Regions from separate parts of the Homo sapiens genome. Here region 1 is linked to region 2. Evidence: fine-mapped expression QTL. A gene starts in region 2. The other region holds a variant in brackets. All regions are shown on one strand. Distances are between the middles of the regions.

What was found. PIP is the estimated chance that this variant, and not a neighbour inherited with it, causes the effect.
Region 1: its variant is the best candidate, but not a certain one, in a credible set for the expression of CRBN in pituitary (GTEx, PIP 0.71).

Annotation. Positions count from the first base shown.
Region 1 is chr3:2,288,497-2,292,902 of GRCh38, forward strand. The region is part of intron 2 of CNTN4 (contactin 4); the gene reads left to right. Among named protein-coding and RNA genes, the nearest start is that of CNTN4-AS2, 150 kb to the left of the region's middle. The variant T/G (reference allele first, on the strand shown) is at 1,904.
Region 2 is chr3:3,178,188-3,182,581 of GRCh38, forward strand. CRBN (cereblon) reads right to left here and starts at 1,504. Exons shown (of 11, transcript NM_016302.4): 1 at 1,434-1,504. The coding sequence starts at 1,500. RefSeq lists a silencer at 1,568-1,737.

The DNA.
Region 1 (4,406 bases), 890 kb before region 2:
CCATTAGGCCCCTCCTTGCAACATTGAGGATCGGATTCAACATGAGATTTTGAGGAGACAGACATCCAAACTATAGCAAGAGGAAGTTGCTATAAAAACAGATCAAAGAAATTGGGAAAGATTGCAACACACTGAGATCCTTAAACAGTTTCCATTTCAAATGGAATAGATAAAGCCATACTAAGTATAAAACAAAATATAATGAAAATGTATGTTATCAAATAAGTGGAAGGATTGTAAGAAGAATATGAATCTGGAAATCAGAATGAAAGAAAACAATACAAGTTTTGTTTTGTTGGTAGGAAAATGTTGGCTGGAAAATGTTAAATAAAGATATAAATTAGAGAAAAGAGGGATGTTTGTCTTGAATGTTCATTCAGTGACATAGGGAAGGTGGTGAAAAGCAAGAAATTCCAAGGAATAGAGTTAAATGAAGGCATTTTATATGAGTATTAAAGATAGGTAGCGAAATTCAAGGTACACAGAACCATCTTAAGGTCTGAAAGGCCTTAAAAATAATCCAATCCCATACCCAGTGAATGGAGCTTGGCCCTATATTCTTGAGAAGTGCTTGCTTAGTATAGACTCAAAAGTACATTTCTTATAAGGCTATACATTTATAGTTTTAAACAGCTTCCCAATGCCTATCATACATTCGCTTTAGAAATATTTTAGAAATATTATTTTAAAAAGAAATATTTTAGATGATTTCTAACATGAATGATGGAGTGATAGGTACAGGGAAGGATGAGAGACCAGGTCCCCTAAAACCCAGAGAGACTAAATGTCATTTGGGACTTTTGCACAGAAAGAGGAGCATGGATTTGACCTATGTTTCTCATTGCATAGAGATATCCTAGGAAGATTTCAAAACTTTTGTATGTTTAGTTTTCTCATCTGTGAAATGGCGATAATAATAGTATCTATAAGACAGAGTTTCTATAAGGATTAAATGGATAGTATATGTGAAGACCATATCATGGTGCATGGCACATTTATGATGTTCATTAAACGTTGCTGTTAATATATGAGAAGGGCTGAAGACATCTGCTTTAAGTCAGCATTTATTGAACACAGTTCAGGGGAGGAAGATTGGATTACATAAGATGGTCTTCCTGTCCCTTCAAATCAACTTGGGATTTTTTTTTACTTTGGGCAGCTACCTTTCAACCTTCAGTGCTTCCCGCTTCCCCGTATAAATATAAGAGAAAATAAGATAATGAAGAATGAACTATAAAACAATTTAGAGGCTTCTTGCAACTATATCTGGTTTTGATCTCTTTCTAATTTTATTCCACTTACTGCATTTCTAAGAATAGTCATTGATGTGTAAGTTATTACGATAGTGGCTGAATAACATTAAAAATATTTTATCATGAAGTAGTTCTTTCTAGACATTTGATGATTGAAAATTTCATACTACCTCTCGGAAACTTGGAGGCATAGTTTTCAGGGTTACAGAATGTTCATTATTAGTATTTAGTATTTTTTAGATTAAAATTCCCATCTTAGGGTGTACCTTCTCTGAGCCAGTCATTTTCTTAGATTTTGAAACTTTTCTACACCTAACACGATGGAGTAACAGGGACTGGATTTATCTTTCTGCCCAAAATAACAACAAAAATGTGGGAAAAAATGAAACAACAGTTTCTAGACAGTAAACAATAACAAGCAGCACAGAGCATTGATCCCAGAAACAGGGGCAATGAAAGAGACAAGCGTTAGAATTGTCCTGGCTTACATTTCAAAGAGAGCTTCCGGGCCATAATGCAGGAAGGGGGAAGCCAGGTGGATCCTGGAAATATCCAGAGTGATTATGAGAAACTGATCAGGCTTGTCTTGGTATGTTATGACTTGAATAACACTGCACTAATTGTGTTTTATGGAATTGACATTGGAACAT[T/G]CATATCTTTACATTTATACGTACAACACCTGTTAATGAAGTACTTAGTAAGGTCTGTGGTTGCAGTTACAGGGGAAAATCATTAACGATGATGGTGAAGCAAGAAAGGCTGGATAAAAAGAGAGAAAGACGATACGTGAGACCTAAATAAGTGAAAAAATGAGGGGTCCATTCAAGAGAATGAAAAAGTTCAGTTTGAATGAAATCACAATTGTCAAATCAGAGACATGATGAAAGAACTACAGGTAAGCCAGGCTACACAGGGTCTTAGAGCATCTTAAAGATTTGTGTATTGTTGCGAGGGAACAGGAAGCCATTGAAGAGTTTAAGCAGAGTGTGAGATCATTGAGTATATACTGCTGGGGTCTTTGGATGCTAACTAGAGATAACCATTAAAATTTTCTGACTTAAATCTGATGAGAGGAAAAAACTTATTTCCCTTTCAACAGAAACTTCGGGTCTGAACTTTGTAGAGTTTATTGTGGCTAAAATGACCACGTTTTTCAAAGAAAAATCGACACTATAGGATTTTTTAAAATGACATGTGAAAGCCTTACATTATAAATTAAATCACCATCTCATATTCAGCTGCATTTTTTAAAAGAATCCAACTATATATATTGAGTGTCTTGGTCACTTTGGTCCTGACTTATACTGTAGCTGTACTTTTGAATAACTGCATCTGTCCATGGCCACTGAGAATCTAGACCCCATCACTGCAGATGTGATGATATTTTTGTTATTCTTATTTCTTTGCTTGGATTTATGTAAATTTTTTTACCCTTCCAGCCTACCTAACTACATTATAATTTTTTTGGTATCAGGGAGTATATAAAGGCTGTGTTCGTCCCCAGTGCTAAGTACAGACCCTAGGCATTCAATACATTCTTGTTCAAATGAATCTTATGGAGAATTCCAACCCATATAGGAGAATTCTCACTATTCAAGAATTTATCTCCAAATTTTCAGCATCATTTAAAAATGACAAATAAATTTTGACATGCAATTAGACTAGCAGAGTCACCCTAGTTACAACTGGTTCCTATCCTCTCCCCCTTTAGATATTTGAAGAAAATAAAGTATGTTAAAAGAACTCAAAATAAATTTTTAATTATGATATTATGATTGATGATTATTGAATGCATGCTAGCTTTTTTCCCTACTGTTTATTCTATATTTCACCATAGGATAATGCTAATATAAAATTATTAAAGGATTAATTCACTGAAGTCCTTATGATAAAGTATTTGGGGATCCCTAAAATTCTTCTGAGTTTTAAGTGGCTTATTTGTGTTGATTTGTTTTGAACTATAATATTTTATTTTATTTTATTTTATTTATTAACTTTTTTTGAGATAGAGTCTCGCTCTGTTGTGCAGGCTAGAGGGCGATGGCAGGATCTTGGCTCACTGCAACCTCCGCCTCCCAGGTTGAAGAGATTTTCCTGCCTCTGCCTCCCGAGTAGCTGGGATTACAGGCATTCGCTACCATGCATGACTAATTTTTTTGTGTTATTAGTGGAGATGGGGTTTCACCATATTGGTCAGGCTGGTCTCGAACTCCTGACCTCAGGTGATCCACCCGCCTCAGCCTCCCAAAGTGCTGGGATTACAGGCGTGAGCCACCGCGCCTGGCGAACTATAATATTTTAATGCCATTTTTTACAGTAAGTAAAATATTAATCCATCACATAATTAACCGTTAAAATGTCTCATGCCCATTCCCTGTCTCATTTGTAAAAAGTGGTACTTGTATTGTCACTTCTACGGCACTTATCTGTCCCACACATTTTGGCAACAGATTATTTTTCTTCTGGATTCTTCTCTAATAGTGTTATATTTATAAGCTTGTCTCTTGCACAACAGAATGAACTTCACAAGGGCATTGGCTTTTCTTCTATCTCTTAGTGAATAATTGTCACTTAGGATTTATTGAAACACAGTACCAAACATGTATTAGGTACCCCACTGATATTTGTTAACTTGAATAAGTTGAATATGACAACTTTGTTTTGCTTTGTTTTATTGAATTTTTCAGGATTATTTGTATGCAATAAAATGCTCATATCTGAAGTGTACAATGTGTTAACTTTTTGACAGCCATTAACTACTACTCAGATAAAGATATAGTATATCTTCATAATTTTCCAAAGTTCTTTTATGTCCCTTTTAGGTAGTAGTCTCCACTGTACCCCAGGTTACCACTTTTCTGACTTTTTATCCCTTAGAGTATTTTTACTTGGTCTAGAATTTCTTATAAATAGAAGCATATAGTATATACTCTTCTTTGCCTTCTTTTGCTCAACATTTTAATATTCATACATATTATTCTATCTATCAGTAGTGTGATCTTTTTCAATTCCAGATAGTATTCTACAGATGAATATATCACAATTTATTCCATTCTTTTGTTGATGGACATTTTGGATGTTCCCAGTTTGGGACTACTATAAATAAAACAGTTATGAATATCTGCTGCAAGTCTTGTTGTGGACATATGCACT
Region 2 (4,394 bases):
TGTCTCTGAAAAAATAGCTCAGCTTTCCATCAAAGGCTGGCACACTTACCCTTGTGTCAACTCAGCTAGAATGGCTTCGAGAACAACCAGTGACTATGGTTTATTTTTACAGAAAAGTTCTCTCCTATATGGTGGGCACGCACTCAGTCTCTTCCTCTTTTAATCCATGCTGCTACCAGTGGACAAATTAATCTTCCAAGCATAGATTTCTTTAGGCAATTACCTGAAACCTAAAACTGTTTCTTGGCAATCCACAGGAAAAACCCAAACCCACTGGCAAGAGATGCCAGTTTCCCAGCAACTTAGACCCAATATACCTCCTAGGCCTTATGTCCCACAACCATATCCTAAATATGTGCTTTTAGATGTCTCCTGATCTACCTGAAAGGCTTTTTCCCAAATCCTCTGACCCTTAAACAACCTCTGCCTCTGAAGAGCCACAACAGCATTCATTTATCTGGCCCTAAATCAACCGCCTCTGCAGTTGATTTACGTTTAGTTATATTCTCAGCAGCCCCGCCTAGACAGTAAACCTCAATTATCAGATTGTGTATTACCTCTCGTTTCATCTCCACAACACCTAACATACTTGTCATATAACGAAGGGACTCAAGTAATACTTTCAAGTTTGGATGATACACCTTTTGGAAAGCATCTCTTGAAAGGCATTCCATGAAAAGTTTATGCAATATTCCATGCATTTTTTTTTTTGTTCAGTATTTCAACACAAGGCCAAAGTCTAAACATTTCACACAACATACAGGAAAAAGAAAAACTAAGTATCTCTGATTAAGCATAATCGTACATGCCTGAGAAAGACCGATAGTAAGAAAAACAAAACAGAGAAGTGGTTTAGAGATATAATGACAGACACACCCGGGTTGGAATCCTGACTCTGCTGTGTGACCTTGGGCAAGTCATTGAACTAATCTGCAAATCCAATACTCGCTTATCAAATCGGAAACTGAAAACTGATGTGGGAAGGATTAAAAGGCGACATGCATGCAAAGCGTTAACTGCACGGCTCGTAACATGGTAAGTGCTTAGTACATGTTAGCTGTCACTCTTATTAAAAGGAAGGAGACCAGCAAAAGTAACCGCTGTGAATCTGACCCGGTCCTCTAGTTTCAGAGCATTTCCTAGGAGCTAAACTCAGAACACAAGGAGGATGGAGAGGATGGGTTTCCTGTTCTTAATAGCAAATGCTCCCCCCGACACCCTGGCTCACGGCTCGGGGCAACAGAGCAGCGAAGAAAGCGCCGCGACTCCATCGCTGGCCGAGGGCCGACGTGAAGCAGCTTTCCGGTGCGGCCCTGCTGGGCTGGCTCGCCAGGCTTGGCGCCCCCACGCCCGCCTCCCAGGCCCAGCTGCACCGCTAGCGGCTCCGAGCCTCGCCCCACTCCCGACTACAGGGAACTACTCCGGGCGGTTACCAGGCAGGAGCGGCAGGTGGTTGCCCATGTTGTGCGCAGCGTCCTGCTGATCTCCTTCGCCGGCCATGTCTGTTTACCCGCAAAGGAGGCTGGGACAGGGCGGTGCCGAAGACTCCGAGGGAGGGCCCGTGTCGCGCGGCTGCCGCGCACCGGGGCCACAGCGCCCCCTGGCGGCCCCAGGGGAGCAGACGGCGGCGCGTACCCAAGCCTGAAAGTGATGGCCTAGGCGGGAGGGACAATTACAGGCCTGCGCTCCGTCCCGGGGACAGAACGCCGTCCCCTGCCATCCACGGCTGAGTGCCCGGCGTACACGCTGCAGAGCCCTCACTTTGTTCCAGCCCTTAGCATGACTTATTTAATCCTGATATTTTGCATATGGAGAAACTGAGGCTGAGAGCCTTTAGTCTCCACCTTGTTTTTAAACGAAGGGGGCAGGGAGCAAATAGAAACCTGTTCATGCAGCATTAGTTTCAATTCTTAAAATAAGAAGCATATATGTGAAGGCTGGGGAAATCCATCAGTTATTCCGAGGGTGGTTGAATTATTGCTGATTTTCTTCAGTAGTTTCAATGTATGTACATACAACTTCAATAACTTCAGTAGTTTCCATATATGTACATTACATTCCAAAATTAACAAGTATTAATCAGAAACATACTTGAAATGATGATTGCACAGAATGGAAAACGCCTTATAATTGGTAAATAAAATTGTCTGAATATAAACTAGCCTACTCATTATGACTTCAGCTATGTAAAAACAAGTCACTGTGGCAAAAAAGAAAGACTATGTAAAAAATGAAGATAATTCTGTTATAATGGTGGAGTTGTGACTGGTAAGATATTTGTTTTGGAGGGAGGACAAAAGTTTTCGTAGTGTATTTCAGTATCACTTTTTCAGCGAGGAAGGAAAACTGAAAAATCCTTAAATGAAATACAACATCTAAACATGGTAGTGGTGGTGGTGGGCGGAGGCTGAGAGGAAGCAGCAGCATTGCTCAACAGAAAAGTCATGGATCTGAGATTTGAAAAAATGATTTCAGAAAATTTGCCTCCCTGATAAGTTACAAGCAGAAAACTCCCTTGTGACAGAGGCTTGTGAATCATTCCTGTGTCATTTTGCCTCCTGTCTCCGAATCAGTCTGTGGTCTTCGTCAAATCACTTATGGCTGCGGGCCTCAATTCGCCCATTTGCAAAATAAGAACGAACCAAATAGTGTCGCCTATTTGTTCCAGTTAATAATGTCTGCAACATGAATCATAGCATCACCTTTTACGATGAGGTTAATAACAATTACATATACTACGTAATGATTTAACGGAGTTAAGGTGATCACTCCAGTCAATTGAAGGATGATTCTATGCCAGAATGCCAGCACAGAACGATGAGGGAATGGCCGGTGTATTGGTGTGCGTGTGTGTGTGCCCACGTGAAAGAGAGAGAGAACGCAAGCAAGCAGGGAGCATGCACTAAGTAATATGTGTGTGTGTTTGATGCTGTAACATTATGTCTCACTACAGTTTGTAGAATTTCAATAACCTGTGCTTACGTGCAGTAGAATTTTCTTTACACAAGCATCTAGCTTCTGAATAAGTAAGCTCTGACTTTCCAGTCTTTCTCCCCAGAGGTGATACCAGAATTGTCTGAACCCTGGGTCAATCAAGACTTCTCCGGACGAGAAAGCACAGCTGCAAGGCTGGTGGAGTCTACAAATGTGGCTGGAGAAGCACTGGCTCTTTCTCTGTTCTTTTGTGCATTGCTACAGATCACCGGAGCTCACATCTGTGTATCTTTTACTCCCCAATTCTCCTCCTCTCCTCTCCACTCTTCACATTCACCACCTGCTCCCTCCTTCATTTTATCCCTCCGGAGTCTACCTAGTCATCCACAGCTACACCTTTCAGTAGGGATAACAGATGATCATTGAACAAAAATATCTAAGCAAGCAGGTTTCTTGGATTAAGCACTGGTTATTAAAACCAAAAGGAAAACATGGTCATTTACCATTTGTTTAATTTGGTAACTTTATCCTGAAAGAAGATATCATACTGAGTTGTTCCTAACATTTCCTCTTGCTTGCGTGCAGTATCAATGGATAAGGAGCTCTGCAAGCCAGAGGGAAAAGAAATATATATGTTCATAGATCACTGTCTTACAGCTCAAGAATTAACTTTAATAGTACAGAATTAAGGGTGGTAGAAGACGGGAGAAAATGTAAATGAAAAGGACCATCGCTCTTTCCATTTCTGGCTTCTACACAATATTAGCAGCAAGGAGCACATAGACTGGGAGAGGACATTTCTGTCTCCCTTTATATTGTATTTTCTCTCTCTCTGTCTCTCTTCATATATATATATATATATAAAATTTTTTTTTCTCGAGACAGGGTCTTGCTCTGTCCCAGGCTGCAGTGCAGTGGTGCAATCTTGGCTCACTGCAACTTCCACCTCCTGGGCTCAAGTGATCTTCCTACCTCAGCCTCCAGAGGAGCTGGGACCATAGGCACCAGCCACCACGGCCAGCTAATTTTTGTATTTTTTATAGAGATGGGGTTTTGTCATGTTTCCCAGGCTGATCTTGAACTCCTGAGCTTAAATAATCTGCCCACCTCCACCTCCCAAAGTGCTGGGGTTAAGGGATTAAGGATGAGCCACCATGCCCAGCCTCTACATATTTTTTTAATGTGTTAAAGAATGCTACTACTCTGGTCTAAGCGGTTGATTATCTCTTGCCTGGAGTATGGCAATAGCACCAACACTGGTTTCTCGGCTTCTACCCTTAGCTCTCACAGTGCTTTCTCAACAAAGCAGTCTGAGCGATCCTGTTAAAACACAAGTCAGATTATGTGACTCCCCTGCTCAGTACCCTTCCTTGGCTCCCCATCTCCCTTGCAGTGGCCCTTATAATGCACAGTGGGCCCCCAATATCCTGCCCTGATGTCACTTCACTGCTGCTCTGTGG